Regions from separate parts of the Homo sapiens genome. Here region 2 is linked to region 1. Evidence: fine-mapped expression QTL. A gene starts in region 1. The other region holds a variant in brackets. All regions are shown on one strand. Distances are between the middles of the regions. Region 1 holds the start of GIGYF1 (GRB10 interacting GYF protein 1). Region 2 holds the start of GNB2 (G protein subunit beta 2).

The links. PIP is the estimated chance that this variant, and not a neighbour inherited with it, causes the effect.
Region 2: its variant is fine-mapped to the expression of GIGYF1 in whole blood (TOPMed, PIP 0.93).

Annotation. Positions count from the first base shown.
Region 1 is chr7:100,686,020-100,702,042 of GRCh38, reverse strand. GIGYF1 (GRB10 interacting GYF protein 1) reads left to right here and starts at 7,793. Exons shown (of 27, transcript NM_001375765.1): 1 at 7,793-7,933; 2 at 12,488-13,451; 3 at 13,528-13,592; 4 at 13,736-13,839; 5 at 13,933-14,062; 6 at 14,160-14,255; 7 at 14,427-14,538; 8 at 14,637-14,745; 9 at 14,997-15,037; 10 at 15,224-15,394; 11 at 15,610-15,863; 12 at 15,964-16,023. The coding sequence starts at 13,805. RefSeq lists an enhancer at 5,884-6,687, silencers at 7,375-7,534, 7,975-8,074, 8,245-8,364, 10,127-10,296 and a cis regulatory region at 7,226-8,719.
Region 2 is chr7:100,661,516-100,677,538 of GRCh38, reverse strand. It overlaps GNB2 (G protein subunit beta 2), which reads right to left and starts at 3,799. Exons shown (of 10, transcript NM_005273.4): 1 at 3,616-3,799; 2 at 1,217-1,362; 3 at 966-1,004; 4 at 740-846; 5 at 124-187; 6 at 1-41. The coding sequence starts at 1,273. LOC105375429 (a long non-coding RNA gene) reads right to left here. Exons shown (of 3, transcript NR_133946.1): 3 at 11,113-11,437. RefSeq lists silencers at 1,200-1,779, 1,790-2,029, 3,620-3,799, 4,050-4,129, 4,140-4,269 and enhancers at 2,700-2,779, 2,980-3,189. The variant AAGC/C (reference allele first, on the strand shown) is at 4,227.

The DNA of each region.
Region 1 (16,023 bases):
AAACAATTGGGCTGGGCACGGTGGCTTATGCCTGTAATCCCAGCACTTTGGGAAGCTGAGGTGGGTGGATCACCTGAGGTTAGGAGTTCAAGACCAGCCTGGCCAACATGGTGAAACCCCGTCTCTACTAAAAATACAAAAAATTAGCCGGGCGTGGTGGCATGCGCCTGTTATCCCAGCTACTCAGGAGGCTGAGGCAGGAGAATCGCTTGAATCCGGGAGGCGGAGGTTGCAGTGAGCTGAGATTGCGCCATTGCACTCCAGCTTGGGCACCAAGAGTAAAACTCCGTCTCAAAAAAAAAAAATGATAAATTGGACTTCATCAAAATGTTTAAACATTTGCTGTGTGAAAGATCACATTAATAAGATGAAAAGAGTAGCCACAGACTGGAAGAAAATATTTGCAAATCATATATCCAACAAAGGACTTGTTTCCAGCATATATAAAGCACTCTCTAAGCTCGAGAGGTAGAAACCGAACAACCCAATTAGAAAATGGGCAAATCCAGCCTGGGCAACATGGTGAGATCCTGTCTCTACAAAAAATTTAAAAATTAGCCAGGCCTGGTGGTCTGTGCCTACAGTCCTAGCTACTCAGGAGGCTGGGGTAGGAGGATTGCTTGAGCCCAGGAGGACAGCACTGCAATGAACTGTGATCATACCACTGCACTCCAGCCTGGGTGACAAAGTGAGGGTCTGAGAAAGAAAGAGAGAGGAAGGAAAGGAAGAAAAAGGGAAGGAAGGAAGGAAGAGAGGAGAGAAAGAGAGAAAGAAAAAACAGAAAAAAGGAAGGAAGGAGGGAGGGAAGGAAGGAAGCAAGCAAGCAAGCAAGCGGTGGCTCTTGCCTGTAATCCCAGCACTTTGGGAAGCTGAGGTGGGTGGATCACCTGAAGTTGGGAGTTTGAGACCAGCCTGGCCAACACGGTGAAACCCCGTCTCCACTAAAAATACAAAAATTAGCTGGGCGTGGTGGCGGGCGCCTGTTAATCCCATCTACTCGGGAAGCTGAGACTTGAAAATCGCTTAAACTTGGAAGGCAGAGGTTGCAGTGAGCCAGGATCACACTATTGTACTCCAGCCTGGGCGACAGAGCAAGACTGTCTCAAAAAAAAAAAAAAAAGAAAAGAAAAAGAAAATGGGCAAATCTTAAACGGACATTTCAGTGAAAGAGAGTATAAGAATGGTAAATAAGCACATCATAAGATGTTCAATATCACTAGCCATTAAGGAAATACACATGAAAACCATGACGAGCTACCAATAACACGTATTGAAATGGCTGAAATACAAAATACGAACAATACCAAGTGTGGATGAGAATGCAGGGAAACTGGATCTCTCATACATACACTGCTTGTGGAAGTGGAAAATCGTACAGCCATCCTAGAAAACAGTTTGGCAGTTCCTTCTAAAATTAAACGTACACTTACCAAATGACCCAGCAAGAACATTTCTTGGCATTTAAAAATCTGTACATGAACATCCATAGCATTTTTTTTTTCTTTTTTTTTTTTTGAGATGGAGTCTTAATCTGTCACTCAGGCTGGAGTGCACTGGTGCAATCTCAGCTCACTGCAACTGCTGCCTCCCAGATTTAAGCAATTCTCCTGCCTCAGCCTCCCGAGTAGCTGGGATTACACATGCATGCCACCACGCTCAGCTACATTTTTTTGTATTTTTAGTAGAGACGGGGTTTCACTATCTTGGCCAGGCTGGTCTTGAACTTCTGACCTGTGATCCACCTGCCTCAGCCTCCCAAAGTGCTAGAATTACAGGCGTGAGCCACCGTGCCCAGCCCGTCCATAGCATTTTTATTTGTAATAGCCCAACGGGAAGCAACCCAGATGGCTTTCTTTTCATATTAATTTATTATGTAGAGATGGGGGTCTCCCTATGTTGCCCAGGCTGGTCTTGACCTCCTGTACTTAAGCAATCCTCCTGCCTCACCCTCCCAAAGCGCTGGGATTGCAGGTATGAGCCACCGACCTCCGGATAACTTTTGATCAGTGCATGGTAAACAATCTATGGCACATCCATCCCATGGAATATTACACAGCTATAAGGGATGGATCAAGGTGACCTGTTAGGCTGCGAACATACCAGTTATATTACATAATACTGTGCTGAACTGCTCATATTGTAGTGTGCAAGACAAGGTGAGCATGATCGCATGACCTGTGCTGAGGGGACATGAATAGGATTGGGTGGATCCCCAAGGAGAGACAGCCAATATCATCTTGAGGGATCCAAGGTTTTCCAAGAGGAAGTAATGATTAGGCAGAGACAGGAATGTTTAGCAGTAGGTCCTATATCCTGTTCCCTTTTTTTTGAGACAGGGTCTGGCTCTGCCACCCAGGCTGGAGTGCAGTGGCTTGATCTCCACTTACTGCAACCTCCGCCTCCCTGGCTTAAGCAATCCTCCCACCTCAGCCTCCTGAGTAGCTGGGACTACATGTGTGCACTGCCACGCCCGGATAATTTTTGTATTTTTTGTAGAGATGGGGTTTTGTCATGTTGTGCAGGCTGCTCTTGAACTCCTGGGCTCAAGCGATCCTCCCGCCTCAGCCTTTCCCAAAGTGCTGGGATTACAGATGTGAGCCACTGTGCCCGACCCATATCCTGTTCCAATACGGAGGTCTGAGCCCTGGGAGGATGGGGAGAAGAGGAGGAACCAGTAAAATCTGAGAAATAGCAGCTAGTGAGGTGGGAGGAAAACCAACAGAATATAGCATCCAGAAAGCCAGGTGAAGATGGTATTTCTGGAGGGAGTGACCGTCTATGTCACTGGCTGGTAACAGGTCATGTAAGATAATGGACCAGTAGATTTCACAATGTGGAAGTCATTGGTGACTTACAACGCAGTTACGTTTGGTTGAGCAAAGAACTTAGCGCAGGGCCAAAAGTAATTCTGAATGCAGTAAATTAATTTTAACGCCCATTATGTCTGATAATTAACAATAAGCACAGTTTATGAGCTATCACTCCATTACTCAGGTCATGTGTCTTTCCATGGTACCTAAAATATGTTTTGCAAACTCTGATATCCACATAAATATCAAGGCTCGCAATTTAGGTGGATGAAGACAAGCTCTGTAATAAACCGATTTGACAATAAACTGATCTGACAACAAGACAGTCCTTATCTCCTTGCATGCATTTCTTTTTTTTTTGAGACGGGGTCTCGCCCTGTCTCTCAGGCTGGAGTGCAGTGGCCCAATCTCAGCTCACTGCAACCTCCACCTCCAAGGTTCAAGTGATTCTCCTGCCTCAGCCTCCCGAGTAGCTGGGATTACAGGCGCCTGCCACCACGCAGGCTAATTTTTGTATTTTTAGTAGAGACGGGGGTTTCACCATGTTGGCCAGGCTGGTCTTGAACTCCTGAGCTCATGATCCACCTGCCTCGGTCTCCCAAAGTGCTGGGATTACAGGCGTGAGCCACCGCATCCAGCCCTCTCCTTACATTTCATCAAAGGAAAACACTGAAGAGGAATCTGCCATTAAAAAAAAAAAAGTGGGGGCGGGGCGGGCGTGGTGGCTCATGCCTGTAATTCCAGCACTTTAAGAGGCCAAGGCAGGTGGATCACGAGGTCAGGGGATCGAGACCATCCTGGCTAACACGGTGAAACCCCGTCTCTACTAGAAATACAAAAAATTGGCCAGGCGTGGTGGTGGGTGCCTGTAGTCCCAGCTACTCGGGAGGCTGAGGCAGAAGAATGGCATGAACCCGGGAGGCGGAGCTTGCAGTGAGCCAAGATCGTGCCACTGCACTACAGCCTGGGCATCAGAGGGAGACTCCGTTTCAAAGAAAAGAAAGAAAGAAAAAGGGCCAGGAACGGTGGTTCACGCCTGTAATCTCAGCACTTTGGAAGGCTGAGGCAGGCAGATCACCTGAGGTCAGGAGTTTGAGATCAGCCTGACCAACATGGCAAAACCCATCTCTACTAAAAATACAAGACGCTTGAACCCGGAGGAGCGGAGGTTGCACCACTGCACTCCAGCCTGAGCAACACAGCAAGACTCTGTCTCAAAAAAAAAAAAAAAAAAAAGAAAAGAAAAAGAAAAGAAAGGCAGAGGCTGGCTGTTTGGTCTGCGTGAGACCACTCTTTCATCTCCATTAACCTTCCAAACAAATCTCTTTGTTTAGTTAAAAAGTTTGCAAATTTAGAACACAGACCAAGACATTTTACAGAGCAGCACCTGAACAAACAAAAACACATTAGCTCCAAATGATTTCTTTATTTTGAGATGGAGTTTCGCTCTTGTTGCCCAGGCTGGAGTCCAATGGCGTGATCTCTGCTCACCGCAACCTCCGCCTCCTAGGTTCAAGCGATTCTCCTGCCTCAGCCTCCCTAGTAGCTGAGATTACAGGTACGTGCCACCACGCCTGGCTAATTTTGTATTTTTAGTAGAGACGGGGTTTCTCCATGTTGGTCAGGCTGGTCTTGAACTCCCAACCTCAGGTGATCCACCTGCCTCAGCCTCCCAAAGTGCTGGGATTACAGGTGTGAGCCACCATGCCCGGCCAATTAGGTCCAAGTGATTTCTTTGTAATTTTTAAATTCTTCATGGGAGACTCACAGTTCTTTTTTGTTTTTTATTATATTTTTTCACTTTTCTCTCTTTTTGAGTCAAGAACTCATTTTGTTGCCCAGGCTTCTGGGCTCAAGGAAGGACAAGGTTTATTAGCAGCATGAGAACTGACTAATACAATCACGGTGGAAGACCAGAGGGGTCTCCCTGGATCTCCTGGACACCAATGTGTGACTTTGGACAAGTAATCCCCACCAACTGTAAAGTGTGAACACTGATGCTGAAGTCAGCAGAAATTAAAGCCTATAAACTCCCTCTTTGAGAAAGGAAGCTAGCTGGCAGGGCACGGTGGCTCACGCCTGTAATCCCAACACTTTGGGAGGCCAAGGCGGGAGGATCACTTGAGGCCAGGAATTTGAGACCAGCCTGGCCAAAACGGTGAAACTCCATCTCTACCAAAAATACAAAAATTAGCTGGGCATGGTGGCGCCTGTCTGTAGTCTCAGCTACTCAGGAGACTAAGGTGGGAGGATCACTTGAACCCAGGAGGTGGAGGTTGCAGTGAGCTGAGATCACGCCACTGTACTCCAGCCTGGGCGACAGAGCGAAACTCCGTCTCGAAAAAAATTAAAATATTAAATAAAATATAAAAACAGACAGCAGGACAGGCACAGTGGCTCATGCCTGTAATCCCAACACTTTGGGAGGCCAATATGGAAGGACTGCTTGAGCCCAGGAGTTCGAGAACAGCCCAGGCAACATAGTGATACTTCAGTCTGTACAAAAATTTAAAAGTAAAAAATAATAGCTGGGCCAGGCACAGTAGCTCGTGCCTGTAATCCCAGCACTTTTGGAGGCTGAGGCAGGTAGATCACCTGAGTTCAGGAGTTCGAGACCAGCCTGGCCAACATGGTGAAACCCTGTCTCTACTAAAAATACAAAAATTAGCCAGGCATGGTAGCACACACCTGTAATCCCAGCTACTTGGGAGGCTGAGGCACGAGAACTGCTTGAACCTGGGGTCGGAGGTTGCAGTGAGCTGAGATCACGCCACTGCACTCCAGCCTGGGCAACAGGGTGAGACTCTTTCTCAAAAAAAAAATAAATAATAAATAATACCCGGGTATGGTGGTGTGCCACTCCCTGCAATCCCAGCTACTCGGGAGGCTGAGGAGGGAGGATCACTTAAGCCTAGGAGGTCGATGCTGCAGTGAGCTGATTGTGCCACTGCACTCCAGGCTGGGCAGCAGAGCAAGACCCTGTCTCTTAAATAAATAAAATAGTTAAAAAAGGAAAACAGACAGGAAAACTCCAAGTGCAGAGAAGCCTAGTGGTACTTGGTGGGGGAAACAAAAGTTGTTCCAGGTATAATAGTTCCTGAAGTCAACACTCTATCATGGCAAGACACCAGGCACTCAAATTCCAAGTCATGAACTTACCTTTTCCTTGTTTTGAGGATTACATTGTGTTGGGCGACAGCTCTTTTAGGCTTCTGGGAAGTAAGGTATACATTCTGGAGTAACTTCCAAAGAAAAAGGTGAAAGCATACGCGGAACTTTTGAGCCTTGAAAAAGTTCAGCGAGTCATTCTTGAAAAGTCCTTTTTTTAAACAAAGGGGGTTTCAGTCACCTCACATTTGCATAGCAGTTTCTCTCTTGTCAAAGCCTTTCACATTCACTTATTTTAATTCTTACAGCACTCAAGGAAGAGTGTGGAGTTGGGGGTCGGGGGTTGGGTGCAGAGCAGTGTTAACATCCTTCTGTAAGAGAAACGGAGGCTTTTGAGAGGCCAGGCGTGGCGGCTCATGCCTGTCATCCCGGCACCTTGGAAGGAGGATCCATTTGGGTCCAGGAGTTCCCGGCACTTTGGAAGGAGGATCATTTGGGTCCAGGAGTTCAAGACCAGCCTGGGCAACATGGGGGAAACCCTGTCTCTACAAAAAAAAAAAAAAAAAAAAAAAAAAAGCTGGGCGTGGTGGTGTGCCCTGGTAGTCCTAGCTACTCAGGGTGCTTGAGGCAGGAGGATTGCTTGAGCCCAGGAGGCGCAGGATGCAGTTAACCGTGATCGCGCCACTGCACTCCAGCCTGGGCGACAGAGCAAGACTCTGTCTTGGAAAACAAACAAACAACAAATACAATAAATTAAAAAAATTAGTTGGGTGTGGTGGCACACAGCTGTAGTCCCAGCTACTCAAGAGGCTGTGGCAGGAGGATCCCTTGAGACCAGGAGTTCAAGACCAGCCTGGGCAATGTTATGAGACACGCCACCCGCCCAGTCTTTACAGAGAATAAAAAAGTTATCTGGGTGTGATGGTGCACACCTATAGTCCCAACAATTCAGGAGGCTGAGATGGGAGGATCGCTTGAGACACGGGAGTTGGAGGCTGCCGTAAGCCGAGATCGGGCTAGTACACTGCAGCTGGGGCAACAGAGTGAGACCCTGCTTCAAAAAAATAAATAAATAGGGGCCGGGCGCGGTGGCTCACGCCTGTAATCCCAGCACTTTGGGAGGGCGAGACAGGCGGATCACTTGAGTGGTCAGGAGTTCTAGACCAGCCTGGCCAACAAAAATAAGCCAAACGTGGTGGTGTGTGCTTGTAATCTCAGCTACTCGGGAGGCCAAGGCATGAGAATCACTTGAATCCGGGAGGCGGAGGCTGCAGTGAGCCGAGATCGCGCCACTGGACTGCAACCTGGGGGACAGAGCAACACTCTGTCTCAATAATTAAATAAATAATTAAAAAAATAAAGAGGCTCCTGAGAGTCAACTTATTTGCCTGAGCCACTTATTTCACACATCCCAGGACGCCTGATGAAGGGTTCTGGATTTTATTGTCTCCTGTCATCCAGGCGGGCTTCCTGGAGGAAACCGGACCGCCAGGGAGGCCGCGGCCTCGGTCCCAGAGGTCGCGCGTCGCGGGGCCGGGGGAGGTGGGGGAGAGGAGGCCGCTCTGGGGCCGATCCCGCCCGCAGCTGGGGGCCCCCGTCACGTGACCAGCCGGGCGCCCAGGTCACGTGTCGGGGCGGGGAGGGGGGGGGCTGTCGGGGGCGACGGGCGTCCGGGCAGTGGCGCGCGCGGCACGCGAGCAGCGCACGAGGAGAGGTGGCGCGGGCCGGAGCCGCGGAGGGAGGCGGCGGCGGCGGCGGCGGCGGCGGCGGCGGCGGCGGCGGCGGCGGCGGCGGCGGCGGCGGCGGCGGCGGTGGAAGGGGCGGCCCCGCGGCCCCGCGTCCGCGTCACGTGGTGCGAGGCGGGCAGCCATCTTGCTACAAACACAAACACAGAGGAGCGGCCGCCGCGGGAGCGCCAGCGCCCCCTCCCCCGCTGCTAGCCGCCGTCGCCGTCCCCGGCCCCCGCCCGCCGCGCGCCGCCCACGCCCCGGGACCGGACCCTCGCGCCGCCCGCGGTAAGCGCCCAGTGGCCCCGCGGCCCCCGGCCCGCAGCCCAGCCCCGGGGCAGGCCCGCCCCCGACGCCGCGGCGGCCGCGCCGAGCCCGCGAGCTAGAGAAGCGCCGGAGCCAGCGCGCGGGCCGCCAGCGAGGACCCTCCCCCGTCTCCTCCCCGAGGCCGCCGCAGCCCGGTGCGTCCTCCCGCTCTCCCGCCCGCTCCGGCCCATCCCCGCCGCCGGGACCCTCCCCCAGAGCCGGCCAGCCTCGGGGAGGCCCCGGGAGGCCGGCGCCCGGCTTAGGGGGCGACCGCTCGCCCCCCTCGCACCTGGCGCCCCTCCCTGAAGGGCACGCCGTCCTCCCGGGCCGGCGCGCTGCCTTCCACCCCCGCGCTCCTAACGGTCGCCCCCGGGCCCCTGCCAAGCCCTGCCCTGGGCCGCCTGGGGGCCCCCGACCCTAGCGTCCTAGGGTGGCCGGGCCCCGCGCTTCCCGGAGTTCTCCCCAGCGCGCCTTTGGGTTCCCCTCGGAACGAGCTGGGCCTTGCGGTTCCCCAGGTCCAAGCGTTCCACGACTTTGGCCAACATGGAAGCCTTGCCCTCCACCCAGGCACCTCGCCTGGGTCCTCCTCACCTCTGTTTCCTTTCGCTCCGGCGATCTTAGTGCTGGGTCATTGGGGTCTCCTTCTTCCCAGTTGCTCGGCCGCGGGAAATACCTTCCTTAGCAGAGACTGCTTGTCCTCCCCGTCCCAGGCCAGGCCCTTCTCAGCTCATGCCCCTCCGTGCAGCAGCTCCCTGGCCACAGCTCTCACACTTTGCCTTAAAAAAAAAAAAAAACAAAAAAATTTCCGAGTAACTTTTTAAAAGCCCCTCGTCTCTCTTCTCTGTTATACAGTCATTACTCGCATTCCCGGTCAGACTCCAGGTCTGTTGCATCCTAGTGCTAGGAACTAGGAGATGCTACATAAAGACTTGTTAGCTGGATTGGATTTTTTTTTTCCAGCCACCCAAGCCTTACTTCCCTCCTGCCTCTCAAAGTGTCGTTCTGGAAGATCGTCAGCTTTCCCACCCTCTTGTGCACTGCCTCTTCGAGTCTATATAGAAGTTTCAATTTAGAACCCCGCCAACCCCTCGCCTTTGGCATGGAAACACCATCGGTGGTACCAGTAAGGGTCTCTCCTTTGCTGCCGACATGGGGGATTTGGGGTTCTTTCTCCTTCCCATCTTTCCTGTGCCCTTTGCAGACCTAGGCTAGCCACCCTCCACCAGGCTAGCCAGCTCCAATCTGATTTTCTTAGATTGTAGGTCTTGGTCCCCCAGCGGTCTGTCGTGCCATTGGGAAGGATTTGAGGGTAGACCTGGCCTTGGTGTCCCTGCCATTGCCTGGGGACCAGGGGCCCTGAGGGTCCCACGTGGTGGTTAGTCAAGTGGACCATGTGCTTAAACTTCTGGACTAGCTTTTTCTGCTGTTGGACACATCAGTCTTGTGTTCGTGATCTGATGCGTTAGCCCTAACTTTTACATCTGCTATTGGAATTTGGGAATTAAAGAAAAATAGCCCACTTTAGAGGAGAGAAGATGAGAGGAGGAGGCTAGATGAAGGATGTTGAAAGTCTAACAAATGTAAAATGGCTTCAAACTCACAGAATAATGCTTGCGAGTTTGGGATGGTTACTGCTACCGTGCGCACCTCCAGTCTTGCATAGTGTCAAGGATGTCGGGGCACGCTGTCGGAGCAGCTTCCTCCTTCTTTTCCCTGGCTGGAGCCCAAGGCTGGGCAAGTGGGCAAAAGGGATCACAGGAGGTAAAGAGTGAAAATCCTTTGAAAACTGTTAACTTGTAGACAATTGCCAAGCGGTGGTGTGATTTGCTGGGATGGCTCAGAGAGGAGAGAGCTGGGATAACCGACCAGCCGCGAAGAATGCGGGTTTGCATCTCTTTTTTAAGCCTCAGCGTCCTCACCCTACCACGCTTGGAGAATCTCCATCCTGAGAAAGGGCCAGGTCCCCTCCAGCAGGCCTGGGGCTGGGCGGTTGTTCCAGTGTTGAGGAATTGGGGACTGTGCTTCTGTTTAAGTGGCTCTGTTCTGTGCCAAGGCACAGTGCTCTGTGTTGGAGCTAATTTTAGGGGTGATGGAGTGAGGAGATAATGTTCTTAGCTGAATGTGCACTGGGACCGCCTGTTCTCTGTCTTTTCTTTCTCTCTTGAGTTCTGAGCCCCAGAGAGCAGGCTCCCTTTCCCGCGCGCCCTGGCGCCTACTGGAGCACCCGGGCCCAGCGTGTCCTCGCCCCTTGTCTCCGGCAGGGGGCAGTCTTTCAAAAGCATTGATTCAGATGCTGGGGGAGTGAGGGTAGACAGGCCCGAGAAAGAGAAGGGGTGGGGAAGGGGCGAGGAGCCGAAGTAGGCCGAGGCTTGAGGGCAGGGCCAGGGCGGGGGACAGGCTGGAAGGGGCCTGTGAGAAGGAGACCCTGAGCTGAGAAAGCTCAGCCGGGTAAGCTGAGACGGGCAGGTGGCAGTACCCCAGCCCCCGCCACCTCCTGCTCTTACCTTCATTGGACAGGGATCAGATACCTGGCCCTGAGAGCTTGCAATAGACAAACTTAGGCAGTTTTTCTTAAAAAAAAAAAATCTATTCTTTTCTCAAAGATTTTCTCCTGGCAGGATTTCAGATTTCCCTCGTGGGACAGTGTAATTAGGGAATGATGTCCCTGCTGTTCAGAGAGGAGAATGACCCAGCGTGCACACACCTGCCTTCCCTTGCCTTCCCCTTGGCCCAGTAGACCCCCAAGGGCTGTGCCCATGCTCGTGGCGCAGAGGAGGGTGTCTCAGCACTGGCGCACTTGGTATCTGGAGTCACATAGCTCTTGGCTGTGGGGCTGCCCTGTGCACCCCCTGCCCAGTGGTGACAACCCAGAATGTCTCTAGACTTGGCCAAGAGCCCCCTGAGGAGCAGAGGTGCCCCCAGTCCAGAACCTGTTGGAGGGTGGGAGCCCCATGGTGGCCTGCAGGTGTGCCACTAGTTCCTTTAGTCCAAGGAAGGGGCCAGGCACCATCAGCTTCCGGCACCAGACCCTGCTGTGGGGGTGCCTAGAGAGTTAACCTCACTCTCCTGGTTTCTTCCCAAGAAGGCGGGTGGCATGGGCTTTTTCCTGCTCTGGGCCTGCTCTCTCCCCTGTCTTGGTGTCGCTGTCCTCAGTCTGCATGAACCATTCCCCCTTTGTGTGCCCCTTGCAGCCAAGACACAGCCAGGATGGGTGACTTGAGCCGGAGGCACCTAGGAGAGCTGCCCTTGCTGCGCCTGGCAGGGGGCAGTGTGAGGCCATCGCTTTAAATTTTTTTTTTTTTTTTTTTTTGAGACAGAGTCTTGCTCTGTTGCCCAGGCTGGAGTGCAGGGGCGCAATCTCAGCTCACTGCAACCTCCGCCTCCTGGGTTCAAGCGATTCTCCTGCCTCAGCCTCCCGAGTAGCTGGGATTAGAGGCACCTACCACCAGGACTGGCTAATTTTTGTATTTTTAGTAGAGACAGGGTTTTGCCACGTTGGCCAGGCTGGTCTCAAACTCCTGACCTCAGGTGATCTGGCTGCCTTGGCCTCCCAAAGTGCTGGGATTACAGGCATGAACCACCACGCCTGGCCACTTTTTCTTTTTTAAAAAATGTTTAGAATTGTTTCTGTAGAGTCGTGGTCTTGTTCTGTTACTCAGGCTGGTCTCGGACTCCTCTCTTCAAGCCTCCCACAGTGCTGGGATTATAGGCATAAGCCATTGTGCTGGCCAGGTGGTCCCTTTTCTGTTCTACTCTCTCCCACCCTCATGCCTCCAGGATGAGCTTCTGGCCTTCTAGAAGGAATGAACTGGAGGAGGCCCAAAATGGCCTCTCCTGAGGCTGATTTGAAGGAATGTGGGGTGTTTTTCTTGGAGTGGGGAAAACTTAGGTATGCGGTGGTTATCTCCAGATACCTTTTGTTCCCTAAAGCTTTTTTAAAAAAATGATTATTGTGGTAAAATATACAACAAAATTTGGAGACTTTAACTGTCTCTAATTGTGCCATTCTGTGTTACTAAGTACACTCACATTGGTGTGCGGCCATGACCACCAGCGGCCCCAGGATCCCCTCCTCAGTTGAGGCTCTGGACCCTTCAGCAACAGCTCCCTGTCCCCTCAGCCCCTGGTGGCTGCCCTTCTACCTTCCTCCCTCAATGAGTGACTGCTCTAGAGACCTCATGAAAGAGAAGTAAGGGGTAGCTCTCCTTTTTTGGCTGGTGTGTTTCTCTTAGCGTGATGTCCTCAAGGCTCATCCAGTCCCCAGATTGCTCTAGGTGGCCACCTGCAGTCAGTGACAGGCTGGTGGCTTTTCATGTCATGGAACACACCACCACTGGAGCATCCAGCCGAGGCAGAGGAAGGAGAGGTCCCAGGGGAGGCCAGCCTGGCCTTGGGTTGCCTCTGAGCCCGGTGTTTCCCCCTGGAGTGCCTGGACTCTGAGCAGGCCTCGGCTTGTCATGGGCTGCTGGCTCAGCTGGGGCTGATGGCCTTTCCTCCTCAGCACCCTGGTTGAACCCGCTTCCTCTTCTTTCCCAGACTGTGGCGTCCTGGAGTTGATGGGAGCTGCAGCACCAAGCCGGGCCAGCCTCCCTCCCAGCCAGTGACAACACCGCAGCACCTGGACCCCGCCCACCCGCTTGAGTCCTCTGCCTGGGGCCCCAGGGATGCGCCTCCTCCTGAAAGTCCCCTCCATCCTCCCTTAGAGGAACAGGCTGCCGCCGCGCCCCCATCAGCCTCCATTGCCCTGACCTTATTTCCACCTGATGGTGCCAGAGGCTGCTTCCCAGCTGGTATCCTGAGATCCTCGTTCCCTTGGTGGCTTGGTTGTTTAAGCCTCCATTATTGATTGGGGGCGGTGGTCTGGGTGTGATTCCTGTGGGGGAAACCAGCCCGAGGTGCCTTGGCTCAGGCTTGCCTGCCTGGAGTCCTTGTCGTGTACCCGTCTGTGGCCCTAGAGTCACCTCCTGCTCCTTTTCACTGGGTTTCTCCCCAGACCAAGCCCCTGGATTTGAGCTTCTGAGCAGCCAACTGATTTTTTTCATGAGGGAAAGAATTTTGCTCCTAGATTTATTTCTAATCCTTTTCTCCGTAACTGACCTTTTCTCTGTAAGCTATTTGTGGCTCTAGTGGGTTTTTGTTTGCTTGCTTGTTTTTGTTTTATCTTTGCCCTGAACGTCCATCCTGGCCTCGGCTGCCTCCCTCCCCGAGTTCTTCACTACACCTCCTGTCTCAGCCTCCCAGAGAGGGTGGCGAGGGTGCTGATGCCCAGAGACACCATCCGGCGAATGGACCTCTCCTGTCATGCGGGGCAGGGCAGGGCTGCCGGCAGAGCCATGTCCTGAACCCTCCCTCCTCCCCCCTGCTCTCCTTAAGGGTCTTTCCCAGATGTGAAGGTCCCTCCCAGGCTCTACTGAGGTCAGACCAATTCCCAGTGGCTTGGGTACCCTCGTTCACTCCAGCACCAGCCCCTGCCCTCCTTCTTCCCGGGCCAGGCTGCCAGGTGAGCCCCGGGCCAAGGGTGGTTGCCCTGCTGAGGCCGAAAGGACTCGAGCTTCCCATCTCCTCGCCTCCCCCAGGTCTTTCACCGTCTGGACTCATCTCTGGGTAACTCATGGTGTGAGTGGCCACGTGGCTGGCTCAGGTGAGTCCTTTTAGACCCCAGGTGACCCACCAGCTAGTCCGGGGCCCATTGTTGTGCCCACTAGGATGTCCCCCATGGTGTCCTCCCTGCGCTTTAAAGTTCTCCTTCGTGTGCTGTTCTTCATGGCCCCTGTTCCCCCACAGGTGTTTGGACAGTGAACGCCAGGTCCCCTCCTCCCCACCCCCGGCCTCTCAAACACGCCCAGCCCCACGATGGCAGCAGAGACACTCAACTTTGGGCCTGAGTGGTGAGTCACTTGTGCCTCGGCTGCCGTGGAGATTCGAGAAAGCACAGTCAGGCTGCCCTGACCTCTGTCTTCTTCTCTCTGTGTTGTGTCCAGGCTCAGGGCCCTGTCCGGGGGCGGCAGCGTGGCCTCCCCACCCCCGTCCCCTGCCATGCCCAAATACAAGCTGGCTGACTACCGTTATGGGCGAGAGGAAATGCTGGCTCTCTACGTCAAGGAGAACAAGGTGGGTGCGTGGGCGAGGGGGGTTGGCGGTGGTGGCCTCTGCCTGTGGAGGGGATCTGGCAGCATGTGGTGTCTTGGCTGTCCCAACCCACTGCCAGGTCCCGGAAGAGCTGCAGGACAAGGAGTTCGCCGCGGTGCTGCAGGACGAGCCACTGCAGCCCCTGGCTCTGGAGCCGCTGACTGAGGAGGAACAGGTGGGACCGGGCCAGGAGCTGAGGCTGCGGGAGCCTGGGAGGGGAGGCCATGGGTTGGGTTAGGAGGAGAGGGGCCAGCGCTGAGGAGACAGGCGGGGAGGGTGCTGTGGGGTGGGGGTGGAGGTGGTTGGGTGCCTGGGTCCTCACTCCCGCCCCTGGCTCCCTCCTCAGAGAAACTTCTCCCTGTCAGTGAACAGCGTGGCTGTGCTGAGGCTGATGGGGAAAGGGGCTGGCCCCCCCCTGGCTGGCACCTCCCGAGGCAGGGGCAGCACGCGGAGCCGAGGTAGAGGGGTGATGGCGTGTCCTGGGGACGGGCAGATCTGGGCCCCTGACTTCGAGAACGTGCAGCAGGTTTCATTGTGCGTCTGGCCTCTTCTCTAGGCCGCGGCCGTGGTGACAGCTGCTTTTACCAAAGAAGCATCGAAGAAGGCGATGGGGCCTTTGGACGAAGCCCCCGGGAAATCCAGCGCAGCCAGAGCTGGGATGACAGGTGGGGCGGGGAGGGGGCATGGCGCAGAGCCGGGCAGGCCAGGGAGGGGAGGCCTGGGCCCTGTCGCTAGAGGGTAACAGAGGCCCACCAGATAAGCCCTGTCCGAGATCCCGGTGCTCCTGACCCCTGGTTTCGTTTGTCCCCTTCCTCCCTCCACTGCCTCAGGGCACAGTGGACAAGGCATGGGGCGGTTGCACAGGGTGGCAGGGGAGGCTGTACTGTTTCTGACCCACACGTTTCCCCTGCTGCAGAGGCGAGAGGCGGTTTGAGAAGTCAGCAAGGCGGGATGGAGGTACGAGGCTGCTGAGGGCGGCGGCCGGGGCGGCAGGGAGGACCAAGATGGGTGGCCCAGTCTGGGGGTGCTTATTTCGGAGGTGTTGGGGGCAGGAGGGCCTGGAGCTGGCCCCCCCAACGTTTCTTGAGGGTCCAGGCACCACGCTGCCTTTCTAATAACTGCCCCTGTCTTCCCGTCTCCCAGCACGATGTGGCTTTGAGGAGGGAGGGGCTGGCCCAAGGAAGGAGCACGCCCGCTCAGACAGCGAGAACTGGCGCTCCCTACGGGAGGAACAGGAGGAGGAGGAGGAGGGCAGCTGGAGGCTCGGAGCAGGGCCCCGGCGAGACGGCGACCGCTGGCGCTCCGCCAGCCCTGGTGAGATTGGGGCCTGGTAGCATTGGCGGGGGCAGTGGGGAGCAGGAACTGTAATGAGAGGGTGGGCTCCTGTAGCCACGGGGAGGGAGCAGAGGCTGGCTGGTGTGGGAGTGGCCGGGACAGCAGCCCTGGAGGTGCTCCGTGAGCTGCAGCAGAGGGGGCCGCTGGCTTCGCTTGGGTACCCACTCTTCTTCTCCCTGACTTTTCCTGTGCAGATGGTGGTCCCCGCTCTGCTGGCTGGCGGGAACATGGGGAACGGCGGCGCAAGTTTGAATTTGATTTGCGAGGGGATCGAGGAGGGTGTGGTGAAGAGGAGGGGCGGGGAGGGGGAGGCAGCTCTCACCTGCGGCGGTGCCGAGCGCCTGAAGGCTTTGAGGAGGACAAGGATGGGCTCCCAGAGTGGTGCCTGGACGATGAGGATGAAGAAATGGGCACCTTTGATGCCTCTGGGGCCTTCTTGCCTCTCAAGGTATCTGTGAGGAGGCGAGGGTGGGAACCTGCCCTTCCGGGGTCCTCTTCCTCCCCACCCACCCCAGCTGTTCTCTGCTCCCCACCCCGGCCCCATGCAGAAGGGCCCCAAGGAGCCCATTCCTGAGGAGCAGGAGCTGGACTTCCAAGGGTTGGAGGAG
Region 2 (16,023 bases), 25 kb after region 1:
CAGGTCATTACCCAGGAGGAGCGCAGCGGGATGGCGTGGACCTGCGGAGCAGGGGAAGCGCCGGGGTCAGAGCCAGCCAGGGCCCTGTGGCCCTGCCCCACCCCGCAGCCCGCGCCACCCTACCTTGTTGGTGGTGTAGCTGTCCCAGATGATGAGCTTCCCATCCTGGGAGGCGCTGACCAGCAGCCTGGTGGGGAACGGTGTAGGGAGAGCAGAAGGGTGGCGTGAAAACAAGACACACCCCCTTCCCTTTGGGTGGGAGAAGGTAGGGTCTCTCTCTGTTGTGCAGGCTGGAGTGCAGTGGCACCATCACAGCTCACTGCAGCCTGGAACTCCTAGGCTCAAGTGATCCTCCCACCTCAGCCTCCCCCGCATAGCTGGGACTACAAGGTGAGCACCACCACACCCAGCTCATTTTTCAATTTTTAGTAGAGCCAGGGTCTCACTATGTTGCCCAGGCTGGTCTCAAACTCCTGAGCTCAAGTGATCCTGCCCTGGCCTCCCCACGTGCTGGGATTACAGGCGTGAGCCACCTGAGAGACAGTCTCCAGCTGCAGCCCACAAGTTCTCACCAGCATGGTCCTGCCTGTCCAGGTCTGGCGGACATGTCTGGGAGTCACCGTTTTTCCAGACGTACGCTGGGTATTTTGGTGGCCTGCTTACTCCGCCAGATCTGAGGCTGCTCCCACGGCCTGCTAGAAAGTCGGCCCACAGCGCCAGCCCGCGCACACACACACACCTTGAGTCGGTCCCCCAGTGCATGGCATAGATCTTTGCCAGGTGCCCACGGAGGGTCCTCCGGGTCCTCATCTGGATTCTCCCCACTGGGTCCAGCCCAGCTGTGATCTGGAGGTAGAGACAGAATGCGCTCGGGGAGGCCCAGGCAGCAGGACTGCAGAGGGCAGCGGCCTCTGATCCTTGCCCCTTCAACCCCTAGTTACGCTCTGGCCACCAAGTGCCCTCACCTGGGTCAGTGTTGAGTCCCCACATGCTTTTCGGGCATCCTGTAAGGGATGGCAGAGCCAGAGAGACGCGAGAGAAGACAGGTTGGGGAGGAAAGGGAGAGAAGAGAACAGAAGACAGGAGTGGACAGGGTCAGATTCTGAGCCATTAAGGGGCCCTCCCTCCCCCTTCCCCCACCAACACCCTCACCCAACCCGGTCCAGGGCACCGGGCGGTGTACACATGAATCGCCCGCCCCGCACCAGGCCCTCACCCGGATCTGGTTCCGGAGCTGCTCGGCCTCCTGTCTCAGTTGCTCCAGCTCACTCATGGCGCCGGGCCCGTGGGGCAGGGTTGGGGGCGGCTGGGGGCCGCGGGACGGGGGCTGGGGGAGGCAGCTCCTGGCCGCTGGCCCGAGGCCTGGGGGATGCAGGGCTGACGTCAGGCCCGAGGCCGCCGGGGAAGTGGGGAGAAAGGCGGGGTTGCAGCGCGGCCCGGAAGGGGTAAGCAAGGGGAGGGGGAAGGGGCGGCGCGGCCGCCGTCCCCGGGCACAACCAGGGTCTCCGGCACCAGAGACGTCGCCGAGTAAGAGCCGACTTCCCCAATCTTCCTCCCGCCCCCCGGAAACGGAGCGGGAAGTGCAAGAGGAAGCGCAGGGGAAACCCCTCCCTCGGACACAGCCCGGGCAGGACACCCGCGGCAGGAACTGGGGCGGGGGGGGCGGGGGTGTCCCTTCGAAAACAGACCTGGCTTCTGCCCCAGCCCGCACAGGCACCGCCCTCCAAGCACCTAATTTTAAAAGGGGCGGTGCCTCTTGAAATTCACCCCACAAGGCGCACACCCTCCACACACACCCCCAGCTTCGATGGTGGCGGGTGGGGGGAGAGACCAGAGGGGAAAGCTGGGCTGTTCGTGGGGTTGCCTAGGCAACCGTCACCCGGACCGAGAGCACCTCATTGGTGAAATGCCCCCACCCTAGCCCCGTTGCCAAGGCAACCGCATCCACGGCAGAGACCTGTAGGGTGGGTGACCCCACCCCCGGCCCCATCGCCCCCGCCCGACCCAGCCTCCCGCCCTCCCCAGAACCGGCCCGGGTGGCTGTTTACAGGATTTGGGAAAAGCCGATTGGGCGCTAATAGGTTCTGGACGGCTCACCCCGGATAATCCCCGGTCCGGCTGCGCCCCATTAGCCGTCCGCCGCGGGTGGGGGTGACAGCGGCGGGGAAGGCAGCCCCGAGCCGCTGCTCCCTCCAGCGCAGGGACCGCCCGCCCCGCCGCGCCCGCAGAAAGCCCGTGGGAGCCGCTCTCGAGTAATTACGGCTCCGCAACGAGGTCCCCGGCCCCGAGGCGCGGAGGTGCTCTCTCCCAGGCGCGGGCGGGCGGCCCCAGGCGGCCTGGCCGCGGCGCCCTGGACACCCGGGGGGCCCAGCCCGCAGGCTCGGCGCCCGGGCCCCAGGGGCCCGGCTGGCTCCGCTCCGGGAGCCTGAGTCCTTCCCCGCCCGCGGGACACCTGTGCGATCCGGCCGTACACACTGCACTTGGCCGGCCCAGGCGTCCCCCACCCAGCTCCCACTTCCCCCAGGCGCAGGGCGTTCCTCTTCCCCACTGACATTTCCCCTCCTTGTAAGTTCAGCTTTCTACGCCAGTGCCAAGGGGTGACCCTCAAAATCGGGGGATGGGGGGTGCGGGCAGAACTCCTTACTCTACCCAACCCCCAGGCCCGCACAAAGCCTCTTCCACCTACTAGCAGCCCAGGCCTGGCGGCACCGCCGGAGGCCCAGGGCAGAAGGAAGCACGGCTGGAGGAAGAAACTGGGGGCGGGGGCGACGTTCTCAGCCCTCGGTCCCCATCACCCCCCAGGGCCCTCAGCAGCCCCCAGACTCTAGGGATATAGCAGCCGGCGCTCCATAGAGAAATGAGGGTGCAACCGCCTCCGCAGGTCTGGCGGGGCTCAGGAGAGTGACGGGAGGGTCCCTGGATCTGGCAGCTGGAAGGCGCGGGCTGGTGCGGCGCTGCGAAGCGCAGTGGGCCTGGCCCTCCAGCCCCTACGACCTCCATTTTGCCTAAAAGAAAGCTGGGCGGGGGGCGGGCGCCTGGGAGCTGGGCTTGGGGTGAGGATCTGTAAAGGGAATAGGGCGCCGAGGGCTCCAGTTTCGGCGAGTGGGGCCAGAAACCACGGGCAGCACCCAAATCGTGGGTAGGGTGGAGACGAAAGGAAGGGTGGCGCGCGGCCTTGCCTGCTTCTCCCCGATTTTGGAGTTGTGCAAGGCGAGGGCCGGCAGGGGTGCGACAGTGGAGGACACGAGGGGTGCTCCCCGGGGGCAGGCGGGAGGGTGGCGGTGGGGAAAGGGGGCGGGGCGGGGCCTAGAGGAAGCCCGGAATTTAGCCCCCCAACTTCCGAGGGAGCAAGAGGCAGTCGGGGCTGGGCTGGGGTCTGGGGTCGGGCAAAAACTTCGCTGATGGTGCGGGGAAGCGCACGCACGGTGGGGGGCGAGGGTTCCCCAGTTCCCCTTCCGGGTTTGGGAGCGACCGGGCAAGAGGGGAAGGGAGCGGAGGTCTGGGGAGTTACGTCCGCTCCCAGGAGGCCAGCCCCGGGAGACCGAAGGAAGAGAGGTTCCCCTGGGGGAAATTGGGGCTGGGGGGCGAGAGGACTCCTTTTGCCAGCGAAGGTACCTGTGGCGGTGGGACTCTGCGGCGGAGGTCGCTGGCGGTGCGCGGGCGGCGCTGTCTTCCTCCGCGGCGGAGGCGGCGGCGGCGGCGGCGGCGGCGGCGGCGGCGGCGCGGATGGATTTCCTCAGTGGCCCCAGCCCCGCCGCCAGCGCTGCCTCCCCAGAGCGGAGGGATCCCGCCCGCCAGTGACGCGGCTGCCGCCGCCGCGCCCAGGACCCGGCTGGGCGAGACCAACTGCCTCGCACTTGGGGGAAGCCAGGAGACAAAACCCCACCGAGGGAGCAAAGACGGGCCCAGTCGCTCCCAAGGTTCTCACCCTACGCTTTGTGGACGCAAACCGTACTCAAAGGGTTTGCTTCACGGAAAGGAGTAAGACATCCCCCCTCTGGGACTGGAGGAGGTGGTACTGGCATATGAGGAGGGTGAGACCGCTCGCTGGTCACGTGATCAGCCTCCCGCCCCGCCTGGAATGGGTGGCTCCAGACTGGGAAGGGGAGTTCGACGCCCCAGTTCCCGGTTGGGCCACGCCCCGGCCCTGAGGAGGCCACGCCCCTCACCAGGGGGCGGAGCTAAAGAGACCTGGACGGGGCCGGCCTCGAGGCTGCTGGAAGAAG[AAGC/C]GCGATTCCGAGAAAGTCCCCGAGCGGGAGTGGGTAGGGGCTGATGCGGGCGCCCCGGGAATGCCATGAGAAGGGTCGTGTCCAGGCATTTCCTCAGCCTCGCCCACTGGGCCTTTGTAGACCCCCTTTCAGGGCTTGCCACTGAAATAACAACTCATTTATTGAGAGCCACACTTTTTTTTTTTGAGACGGAGTCTCTCTCTGTCGCCCAGGCTGGAGTGCTATCTCAACTCACTGCAACCTCCGCCGCCCGGGTGCAAGCGATTCTCCTGCCTCAGCCTCCTGAGTAGCTGGGACTACAGGCGTGTGCCACCACACCCGGCTAATTTTTTGTATTTTTAGTAGAGACGGGGTTTCACGGTGTTAGCCAGGATGGTCTCCATCTCCTGACCTCGTGATCTGCCTGTCTCGGCCTCCCAAAGTGCTGGGATTACAGGCGTGAGCCACCGCGCCTGGCCCGACACTTATTTTTTAATTGGAGTACAGTGACGCGATTGTAGGTCACTGCCACCTCAATCTCCTCGGCTCAAGTGATCTTCCTGCCTCAGCCTCCCTAGTACCTGGGACCACAGGCGTGCCCCAGCCACCATGCCCAGCTAATTTTTAAATTTTTGGTAGAGGTGGGGTCTTGCTATGCTGCCCAGGCTGACATATGTTAAGTCTCACAATACTGGGAAATTAAGTGCTAACATTCTCCCCATTTTCTTTTCTTTTCTTTTTTTTTTTTTTGGAGACAGGGTCTCACTCTGTCGCCCAGGCTGAAGTGCAGTGGCATGATCTCGGCTCACTGCAACCTCCGCCTCCTGGGTTCAGGCGATTCTCCTGCCTCAGCCTCTGGAGTAGGTGGGATTACAGGCGCCCGCCACCATGCCCAGCTAATTTTTTTTTGTATTTTTAGTAGAGACGAGGTTTCACCATGTCGGCCAGGCTGGTCTCAAACTCCTGACCTCAGGTGATGTGCCCGTCTCGGCCTCCCAAAGTGCTGGGATTACAGGCGTGAGCCACCGCGCCCAGCCTTCTCCCCATTTTCTAATAGTGGAAAGAGACCTGAGGCTGCAGAGTTTAGATATGAACCCAGGCAGCCAAAACTTTACTGTACATTCCAGTTTATCTGTATGAGCCTCTAGATGAACCCCTTCCTCCAGGGACCTTGCCTGTAAAGGGACAAGAACGTAGGTCTAGGCCTCAGTTTCCACATCTGTTAAATGGGGATGTTGACAGCATCTGCCCTCCAAGTCCCGGATTCTTACTGAGAACCCCATCGATTGTGGAAATGCTTTGGGAAGTTCAAGGCAACGAATAGCCTTCACTGAGTCCTTGTAATTTGAAAGTATCAAAACACGCAGCCATAAGAAAGAACGAGATGGGGCTCACGCCTGTAATCCTAGCACTGTGAGAGGCCGAGGCGGGTGGATCACTTGAGGTCAGGAGTTTGAGACAAGCCTGGCCAATATGGTGAAACCCCGTCTCTGCTAAAAATACAAACATTAGCTGGGCGTGGTGGCACACACCTGTAATCCCAGCTACTCAGGAGGCTGAGGCAGGAGAATTGCTTGAACCCGGGAGGCGGAGGTTGCAGTGAGCCAAAATCACACCACTCACTGCACTCCGGCCTGGGCAACAGAGCAAGACTTTGACTCAAGAAGAAGAAAGAAAGACAAAAGAAGAAAAAGTAAAAGAAAGAAAAGGAGGGAAGGAAGGGAAGGAAAGAAAAAAAGAAAGGAAAGAGAAAGGAAGAGAGAAAAAAGAAGAAATCATGTCCTTTGCAGCAACATGGATGCAGAAAAGAGAGAGAGAGAGAAAGAGAAAGAAAAGAGAGAAGGAAGGAAGGGAAAGAAAGAAAGAAGAAACAAAAGAAAAGAAAAGAAGAAGAAATCGTGTCCTTTGCAGTAACATGGATGCAGCTAGAGGCTTTTATCCTAAGTGGATAAATTTCTGCAGGAACAGAAAACCAAACACTGCATGTTCTCACTTATAAGTAGGAGCTAAACACTGGGTACTCATGAACATAAAGATGGGAACAATAGACACGGGGGATTACTAGAGGGGGGAAGGGTTGAAAAACTACCTATTGGGTACTGTACCCCAGGTGACGGGATCAATTGTACCCCAAACTTCAGCATCACAAGATATACCCATGTACATGGGTACATTCATGTGCACATGAGTCAGAATCTAAAAAGATGAAATTATATTTTAAAAAGTATCAAAACATACTCTTCATTTAGTCTCTGTGAAAGACATTACAAATCACTTTTCAAAAACAATTGTTTTTTCTTTTTTCTTTTTTTTTTTTTTCTGAAATGGAGTCTTGCTCTGTCACCCAGAGCTGGAGTGCAATGGCACAATCTCGGCTTACTGCAACCTCTGCCTCTTGGGTTCAAGCGATTCTCCTGTCTCAGCCTCCCGAGTAGCTGGGATTATAGGAGCATGCCACCAGGCCTGGCTAATTTTTGCATTTTTAGCAGAGATGGGGTTTCATGTTGGCCAGGTTGGTCTTGAACTCCTGACCTCGTGATCTGCCCGCCTCGGCCTCCCAAAGTGCTGGGATTACAGATGTCAGCCACCGTGCCCAGCCTACAATTGTTTTTTCCAAATCGAATATGTTATGAACATAGTAGTTGTCTTTGTAATGGGTACACACACTCACACACACAGAATGATCTGCCTGGTGGGGCAGGGAATTGTAAACATGCCAAAGGGAAAATGAAAAAAGAATCCTGTAGGTTTTCATTATTTTAGGCAATTATGTCCATATCACTTACAAAGCTATTGCCAAATCTGTCTAAGGAAGCAGAGTTTGAAGGTGGGCCGGGGGGGACATCTGGGAGAAATTCGAAAATGGCATAACAGAGCTCTCAATATGAGAAACAAAAGCCCAATATTTTTTTAAAGAAAATATAAACAATCGTATTCGTAGTTAGATGCAAATTCTATTTATGCATACCTGCCAATTCAGTGACATATAAGCAATAGATAACAGATGTCAACTACACATGAGAATTTGGGAGGGACCTCAGAGATAATTACGTTGATTTCCTCAATCTGTAGATGGCCACGATGACTTCCCTAAAGTCACTTAACAACAAGCAGCGCAGGACTACAGCACAATTTTGTCAATCTCAAGAGGGCATGTGTGCTGCTTTGGTTTCTGTGCTAATAAGCTTTCCTGTTTTAACTCATTCCGTTGATATTTACTGAACCGGATGATGTATCAGGCACTGCCCTAGGCAATGAGGATGCAACCTTGAATGACAGGTGCACCCTCCTCATGGAGCTTGCAATCTATAGAGGAGGCAGATGGGCATTGAAATATGGATTAGGGTCAGGCGTGGTGGCTCACACCTGTAATCCCAGCATTTTGGGAGGCAGAGGTGGGCGGATCACTTGAGTCCAGGAGTTCAAGACCAGCCTGGGCAACATAGCAAGACTACGTCGTTAAAAAAAAAAGAGAGAGAAAGAAAGAAATACATGGTGGCGTGCGCCTGTAGTCCCAGCTACTCGGAAGGCTGAGGTGGGAAGATGACTTGAACTCCTGAGGCAAAGGTTGTGGTGAGCTGAATTTCTGCCACCGCACTCCAGCCTGGGTGACAGAGCCAGGCCCTGTCTCAAAACAAAACAAAACAAAACAAACAAACAAAAATGAAAAAATAACAGTGCTTGGCCTGGAGGTATTGTTTACTTCGAGCAGAACATTTGAGATGGAACATATTCTGGGAGGAAGATCAAGAGTTTAAGATTGGGAAGTTTTAGGTTTGAAGTGCCTATGGAGAAAATTTTTTTTGGTGTTTTTGGTTTTGTTTTTTTTGAGACAGGGTCTCACTCTGTCACCAAGACTGGAGTGCAGTGGCGCAATCACAGCTTGCTGCAGCCTCGACCTCCTGGGCTGAGATGATCCTCTCACCTCAGCCTCCCCAGTAGATGGAACTACTGGTGCACACCACCATGCCTGGCTAATTTTTTGTATTTTTTTTTGTAGAGACAGGGTTTTGTCATGTTGCCCAGGCTGGTCTCGAACTCCTGGCCTCAAGCGATCCGCCAGCCTCAGCCTCCCAAAGTGCTGGGATTACCGGTGTGAGCCACCGCACTCAGCCGGATCTCGCTCTGTCGCCCAGGCTGTAGTGCAGTGGCGCAATCTCGGCCCACTGCAACCTCTGCCTCCTGGGTTCAAGTGATTTTCCTGCCTCAGCCTCCTGAGTAGCTGCGACTACAGATACGTGCCACCAGGCCCGGCTAATTTTTTGTATTTTTAGTAGAGACGGGGTTTCACCGTGTTAGCAAGGATGGTCTCGATCTCCTTACCTCGTGATCCACCTGCCTCAGCCTCCCAAAGTGCTGGGATTACAGGCGTGAGCCACTGTGCCCGGCCTCTTTTTTTGTTTTTTTTAACTTTTATTTTAGATTCACGGGGTACGTGTGCAGGTTTGTTATATGGGTAAATTGTGTGACACTGAGGTTTGGAATACGATTGATCCCATCACCCATGTAATGAGCACGGTACCCAATAGGTAGTTTTTCTTTTTCTTTTTTTCTTTGAGACAGGGTCTTGCTCTGTTGCCCAGGCTGGAGTGCAATGGCACGATCTCAGCTCACTGCAACCTCCGCCTCCTGGGTTCAAGTGGTTCGTCTGCCTCAGCCTCCCAAGTAGCTAGGATTACAGGTGTGCACCACCACACCTGGCTAATTTTTGTATTTTAAGTAGAGATGGGGTTTCGCCATGATAGCCAGGCTGGTCTTGAACTCCTGGCCTCAAGTGATCTACCTGCCTTGGCCTCCCAAAGTGCTGGGATTACAGGCGTGAGCCACCATGCCTGGCCCCATTAGGTATTAATAGTTTTCAACCCTTGCCCCATCTTCTTCCTTCTTCCCCCTAGTGGTCCCCAGTGTCTATTGATGCCGTCTTTATGTCCATGAGTACCCAATGTTTAGCTCCTGTTTACAAGTGAGAACATATGGTATTTGGTTTTCTGTTCCTGCTCTAAATTCACTTAAGAGAATGGACTCCAGCTGCATCCATGTTGCTGCAAAAAACATGTTTCTTTGTTTCTTCATTTTGTTTCTTTTTATGGCTGCATAGTATTCCATAACATACATGTACCATTTTCTTTATCCAGTCCACCATTGATGGGCACCTAAGCTGAGTTCATGTCTTTGCTCTTGTGAATAGTGCTGCAAGGAACATACGAGTGCATATTTCTTTCTGGTAGAAGGATTTTTTTTCTTTTGGGTAAATACCCAGTAATGAGATTGCTGGGTCAAACTGTAGTTCTATTTTTAGTTCTTTGAGAAATCCAGGAGAAATGTTTAATAGGTGGCTGTAGACACAGTCCTGGAATTCAGCAGAGAAATCTGGGTTGGAATAGAGCCCCAAGAGTGAGTGGCACATTCTAGCAGATGACGTCATAAAGAGGTGCAGGGAAAAGACAAGATGGCCTAAGACCAAGCTCTGAGGAACTCCGACATTTAGAGGTCAGGTGGAGAACAAGTTGCCAAAGGAGAAGCCGGCGAACTAAGAAGAAAATCAGGAGGATGCGGACTTCTGGAACCCAAAAGAAAAGAGTGTTCCAAAAAAGGAATGGGAAACTGTGCTGAAGGCTGCAGAGACATGAAGCAAGCCTGCCCTGAGAAGTGTGCAGTGGATTGGGTAGAAGCCACTGTAGCTCTGCCTACGGCATTTGCAATGGGTGAGTGAGAAATGATGCAGTGGAGAAAAACAACGTGGACCAGACTTTGGGTATCTCAGCTTGGCCGGGGACCATGTACAAAGCTGGTGCAGCAGTGAGAAGAGGAAGTGGAATCAAGATAGTCGGGGTTTTTTAGGCCGGGCGCGGTGGCTCATGCCTGTCATCCCAACGTTTTTGGGAGGCTGAGGCAGGAGGATCGCTTGAGGTCAGGAGTTCGAGACCAGCCTGGGCAACATGGTGAAACCTCATCTCTACTAAAAATACAAAAAATTAGCCAGGCATGGTGGCGTGTGCCTGTAATCCCAGCTACTCAGGAGGGAGGCGGGAGAATTGCTGGAACTCAGATTACAGGGAGTCGAGATTGCACCACTGCACTCCAGCCTGGGCGACAAGAGCGAAACTCCATCTAAAAAAAAAAAAAAAGATATGTATATTTTTTAGGCTGGGCGTGGTGGCTCGTGCCTGTCATCCTAGCATTTTGGGAGGCTGAGGCAAGAGGATCGCTTGAGGCCAGCTTGCACAACACAGCAAGATCTCATCTCTACAAAAAAAATTGTAGAAACCCTGTCTCTACAGAAAAATTACATATATATATATATATATTTTTTTTTTTTTCCTTTTGAAACAGAGTCTTGCTCTGTCACTCAGGCTGGAGTGCAGTGGTGCTGCGATCTCGGTTCACTGCAACTTTCACTTCCCAGGTTCAAGCAATTCTCCTGCCTCAGCCTCCCAAGTAGCTGGGATTACAGGCATGTGCCACCACGCCCAACTCATTTTGATATTTTTAGTAGAGACAGGGTTTCACCATGTTGGCCAGGCTGGTCTCAAACTCCGGACCTCAGGTGATCCAGTCGCCTCAGCCTCCCAAAGTGCTTGGATTAGAGGCATGAGCCGCCGCGCCTGGCCGTTATTTGAGTTTTGATGAGAGCTACTGGAGCTAATTTAGATGGTAATGAGGAGGGCAGGAGGAAAGAGAGAGGAAAAAGAAGTTGGCCAGATGCAAGGAAGGACAGAGTTGCCAGGTGATGACCAATGAGTAGCCAACTTATCTGAGCAGGCAGGACCCTCGAGAGCAAGTGGCGGATGTGGCTCTGATGGGTCACAGGGCCTCCTTCCTCTACCTCTTCTGGCTTCTTAGCATCTCCTCCTCCTCAGGGCACTCTGCAAACATTGTTTTTCCCAGAATACTGACTTTGGCCTCCTCTGCTCACTCTCCATGTTATTCATTGGTGACTTCATCCATTACTGTCTCCAGCCCAGATGTCTCTTCCCCGTGTGCCGACTTGGTGTACATCCAATGGCTGACTGAATATCCCCACTTAGATGCCCGTGGACAGTGGCATGCTGGCATCCGCTCATGCCAGGTCACGAGTGCCCATTGTACACCCAGCTCCTTATTCAGTGAAGGCATCTTGGTAGCAGAAACTTGAAGAGCTGGGCGCGGTGGCTCACGCCTGTAATCCCGGCAGTTTAGGAGGCCCAGGTAGGTGGATCACCTGAGGTCAACATGGTGAAACTCCGTCTCTACTAAAAAATACAAAAAAATTAGCTGGGCGTGGTGGCGGGTGTCTGTAATCCCAGCTACTCAAGAGGCTAAGGCAGGAGAACCGCTTGACCCCAAGAGGTGGAGGTTGCAGTAAGCCGAGATAGCGCCATTGCACTCTAGCCTGAGTGACAAGAGCGAAACTCCATCTCAAAAAAAATAAAATAAAATAAAATAAGATAGTAGGAACTTGAACTCAGCCAAGGTGTGACTGTTTACGTCATGGACATTGGCAAATGCTTCCGATCAGGGCTCCCCCTTTTTGAAGAGCTGGTTGTTAGGAATGGTGGCTCACCACCAGGAGTTTGAGACTAGCCTGGGCAACACAGCGAGACCCCATCTTCAAAAAAAAGATTAAAAATTATCCAGGTTTGGTGGCATGCCTGTAGTCCCAGCAACTCAGGAGGCTGAGGTGAGAGGACTGCTTGAGCCCAGAAGTTGGAGGCTGCAGTAAGCTATGATCGCACCACTGCACTCCAGCCTGAGTGACAGAGCAACACCCTGTCTCAAAACAAACAAACAAAAAACCATTTACTACACACCACTGTTCACAGACATTTCACATTCAACATATTCAAAACTAAGTTAATCATCTTCCCCTGAGCCCAACCCTGCCCAACCTTACCCCTTCCCTGAATATCCTGGCCCAGTTGACAGCACCAGCACCCACTCAGATATTTCCCATGCCTTCCCTCCCCATATCCAAAGGATGGTCAGTTAGGGTATAGGCGAAGCGGCTATAACAAAGAATTCCCCAAAATTCAGTGACTTAACCTCAAAATAGATACTCCAGGACTGTGGGGACATCTCTGCCATCTTTTTTTTCCTTTTGTTTTCTTTTTGTTTTTGTTTTTTTTGAGAGGGAGTCTCGCTCTGTCATCCAGGCTGGAGTGCAGTGGTGCGATCTCACCTCACTGCAACCTCCGCCTCCTGGGTTCAAGTGATTCTCCTGTCTCAGCCCCTGAGTAGCTGGGATTACAGGTGTGTGCCACCACACCCGGCTAAGTTTTGTATTTTTAGCAGAGACGGCATTTCACCATGTTGGCCAGACTGGTCTCGAACTCCTGACCTCAAGTCTGCCCACCTCGGGCTCCCAAAGTGCTGGGATTACAGGCATGAGCCACGGCACCCAGCTGGTCTCTGCCATCTTAAACATGTGGCTTCTATCTCTCTGTTCCATGGGGCCTAGGCAGAAATCACCATCATATCTGAATGTGGGAAGGGGGTTAAAGCAGGAAGCACAGGTCCTTTCCTGATTAAGGACACCACTAACCTGCTCAGAAGTTGTCCAGATGCAGCTGGACACAGTGGCTCATGCCTGTAATCCCAGTACTTTGGGAGGCCAGAAGAAGGTTTGCTTGAGGTCAGGAGTTCAAGACCAGCCTGGTTAACATAGCAAGACCCCCATCTCTATTATTTAAATTTCTAATAAAAAATGAATTAAAGTCCGGGCACGGTGGCTCACACCTGTAATCCCAGCACTTTGGGAGGCCGAGGCGGGCGGATCACGAGGTCAGGAGTTCGACACCAGCCCGACCAACATGGTGAAACCCTGTCTCTACTAAAAATAAAAAAAAAAAAATTAACCAGGTGTGGTGGCACACACCTGTAATCCCAGCTACTCAGGAGGCTGAGGCAGGAGAATGGTGTGAACCCGGGAGGTGGAGCTTGCAGTGAGCTGAGATTGCACCACTGCACTCCAGCCTGGGCAACAGAGTGAGACTCCGTCTCAAAATTAATTAATTAATTAATCAATCAATCAATTAATTAATTAAAATAAAAAGTTAGTCAGATGCAAGGAAAGCTGGGACATGTAGTCTCTATCCATGTACACAGCTAAAACATTATTAATAAACAAAGAAGGCAATTTAGGAGGCCGAGGCAGGGGGATTACTTGAGCCCAGGGGTTCGAGACCAGCCTGGGCAACGTAGTGAGACCCTGTCTCTATAAAAAATAAAAAATAATAAAATAGGCTGAGCATGGTGACTCACACCTGTAATCTCAGCACTTTGGGGGCCGAAGGAGAAAGATTGCTTGAGCTCAGGAATTCGAAACCAGCCTGGGCAACATAGTGAGACTTCATGTTTGCTAAAGATAAAAATAAATAAATTAATTAACCAGATGTGGTGGCTCATGCCTGTAGTCCCAGCAACTCAGGAGGCTGAGGTGGGAGGGTCCCTTGAGCCCAGGGGATTGAGGCTGCAGTGAGCTATGATCACACCCCTGCATTCCAGCCTGGGTGACAGAGTGAGACCCTGTCTCAAAAAATAAAAATAATTGATGATAACAATAATAAACAAAGAAGGGCAATGGGAAATGGTATAAGAGTAGCAGTCTATGCCTAGTGGATCCATCATGTCAATGTTATCGCTCTCTCTTTTTTTTTTTTTTTTTGACAGCCTCAACCTCCTGGGCTCAAGTGATCCTCTTGCCTCAGCCTCCTGAGTAGCTAGAACTACAAGCACGCACCACCACGACAGGCTAATTAAAAAAAAATTTTTTTTTCTATAGAGATGGGGTCTCGATATGTTGCCTAGAGTGGTCTCCAACACTGGCCTCAAGTGATCCTCCTGCCTCAGCCTCCCAAAGTGTTGGGATTACAGGCATGAGCCACTGTGCCCAGCCCAATGCTATCTCTTGAATACTGCTTAAATCCATCCCTTCTACGGTGTGCCAATTGCTATTACCTTGATTCCTGCCCATTTCCTGGCCTCTAACTTAGTCCCTTTCTAATCAATCTACCAAATGGCTGCCAGAGGTATCTTTCTAAAATGCCAGTTGGGTCAATAACCCTCCTGTTCAAAATCTTGCAGTAGTTCCCAGGGGTTTCCAGGAGAAGAGTCAACTTCTTTGCATGACACAAAGGCCAGGTCTTGTCCCCTCAACTCAGAAATGCCTTTCACCCCTCCTCCAGCTCCACTTCCTTGTCTGCCAGAAAAACCCAGGCCATTTCCTGGGACTTAGTTTAAATATTGTTTTAAATGTTGTTTGTGCCCCACTGCAATGCTGGCTCCATTCCTGTTGAAGCCTTTACTGGACTGTGTATTTCTGGGCACTTGCCATCCATCCTGGGACCGGGGCTCCCTGTGAAGCCAAGGCACTTGGTTTATCTGACAGAAGGCTGGGTGAAGGCTGGGTACAGTGGCTCAGGCCTGTAATCCCAGCACCTTTCGAGGCTGAGGCAGGTGGATTGCTTGAGGTCAGGAGTTTGAGACCAGCCTGGGCAGCATGGCAAAACCTCATCTCTGCAAAAAATACAAAAATCAGGCCAGGCACGGTGGCTCACACCTATAATCCCAGCACTTTGGGAGGCCAAGGCAGGCGGATCACCTGAGGTCAGGAGTTCGAGACCCGCCTGGGCAACATGGCAAAACCCTGTGTCTACTAAAAATCCAAAAATTTGCCAGGCGTGGTGGTGCGTGCCTGTAGTCCCAGCCACTTGGGAGTGAGACAGAAGAGTCACGTGAACCTGGGAGGCAGTGGTGGCAGTGAGCCAAGATCATGCCATTGCACTCCAGTCTGGGCTTCAGAGCAAGACTCTGTCTCAAGAAAAAAAAAAAACCAGTTGGGTGTAGTGGTGTGTGCCTGTGGTCCCAGCTGCTCGGGAGACTGAAGCAAAAGGATTGCTTGACTCCGGGAGACTGAGGCTGCAATGAGCTGTGATCACGCCACTGCACTCCAGCCTGAGTGACAGAACGAAATCCTGTCTCAAGAAAGAAAACAAGGGCTGGGTGTGGTGGCTCACGCCTGTAATCCAAGCACTTTGGGAAGCCAAGGTGGGTGAATCACTTGAGGTCAGGAGTTCAAGACCAGCCTGGCCAACATGGTGAAACCCTGTCTCTACTAAAAATAAAAAAAAAATTAGCTGGGCGTGGTGGTGCATGCCTGTAATCCCAGCTACTCAGGAGGCTGAGGCAGGAGAATCGCTTGAATCCAAAAGGCGGAGGTTGCAGTAAGCTGATATTGCGCCACTTCACTCCAGCCTGGGCGACAGAGCGAGACTCCTTCTCAAAGGAAAAAAAAAAAAACAGCCAGCTTGGGAAACATAGCAAGACCCTGTTTCTACCAAAAACAAAAAAAAGGCCGGGCGCGGTGGCTCACACCTGTAATCCCAGCACTTTGGGAGGCTGAGGCAGTTGGATCATGAGGTCATGAGTTGAAGACCAGCCTGGTCAAGATGGTAAAACCCCATCTCCACTAAAAATACAAAAACTAACCAGGCGTGGTGGCGGGCGCCTGTAATCCCAGCTACTCGGGAGGCTGAGGCAGACAATTGCTTGAACCCGGGAAGTAAAGGCTGCAGTGAGCCAAGATGGCGCTACTGCACTCCAGCCTGGGTGACAGAGCAAGACTCCATCTCAAAAAAAAAAGGAAAGAAAGAAACAAAAATAAACAAATAAAAACGGTTGTAGGCATGAACCCATTGGTTTTATTTTTATTTTATTTTATTTTATTTTATTTTTAAGAGACAGTGTCTCACTCTGTCACCCAGGCTGCAATGGTGTGATCATAGCTCACTGCAGCCTCGACCTCATCCAGCTGGTCATTAATTACTTCATCTCATCT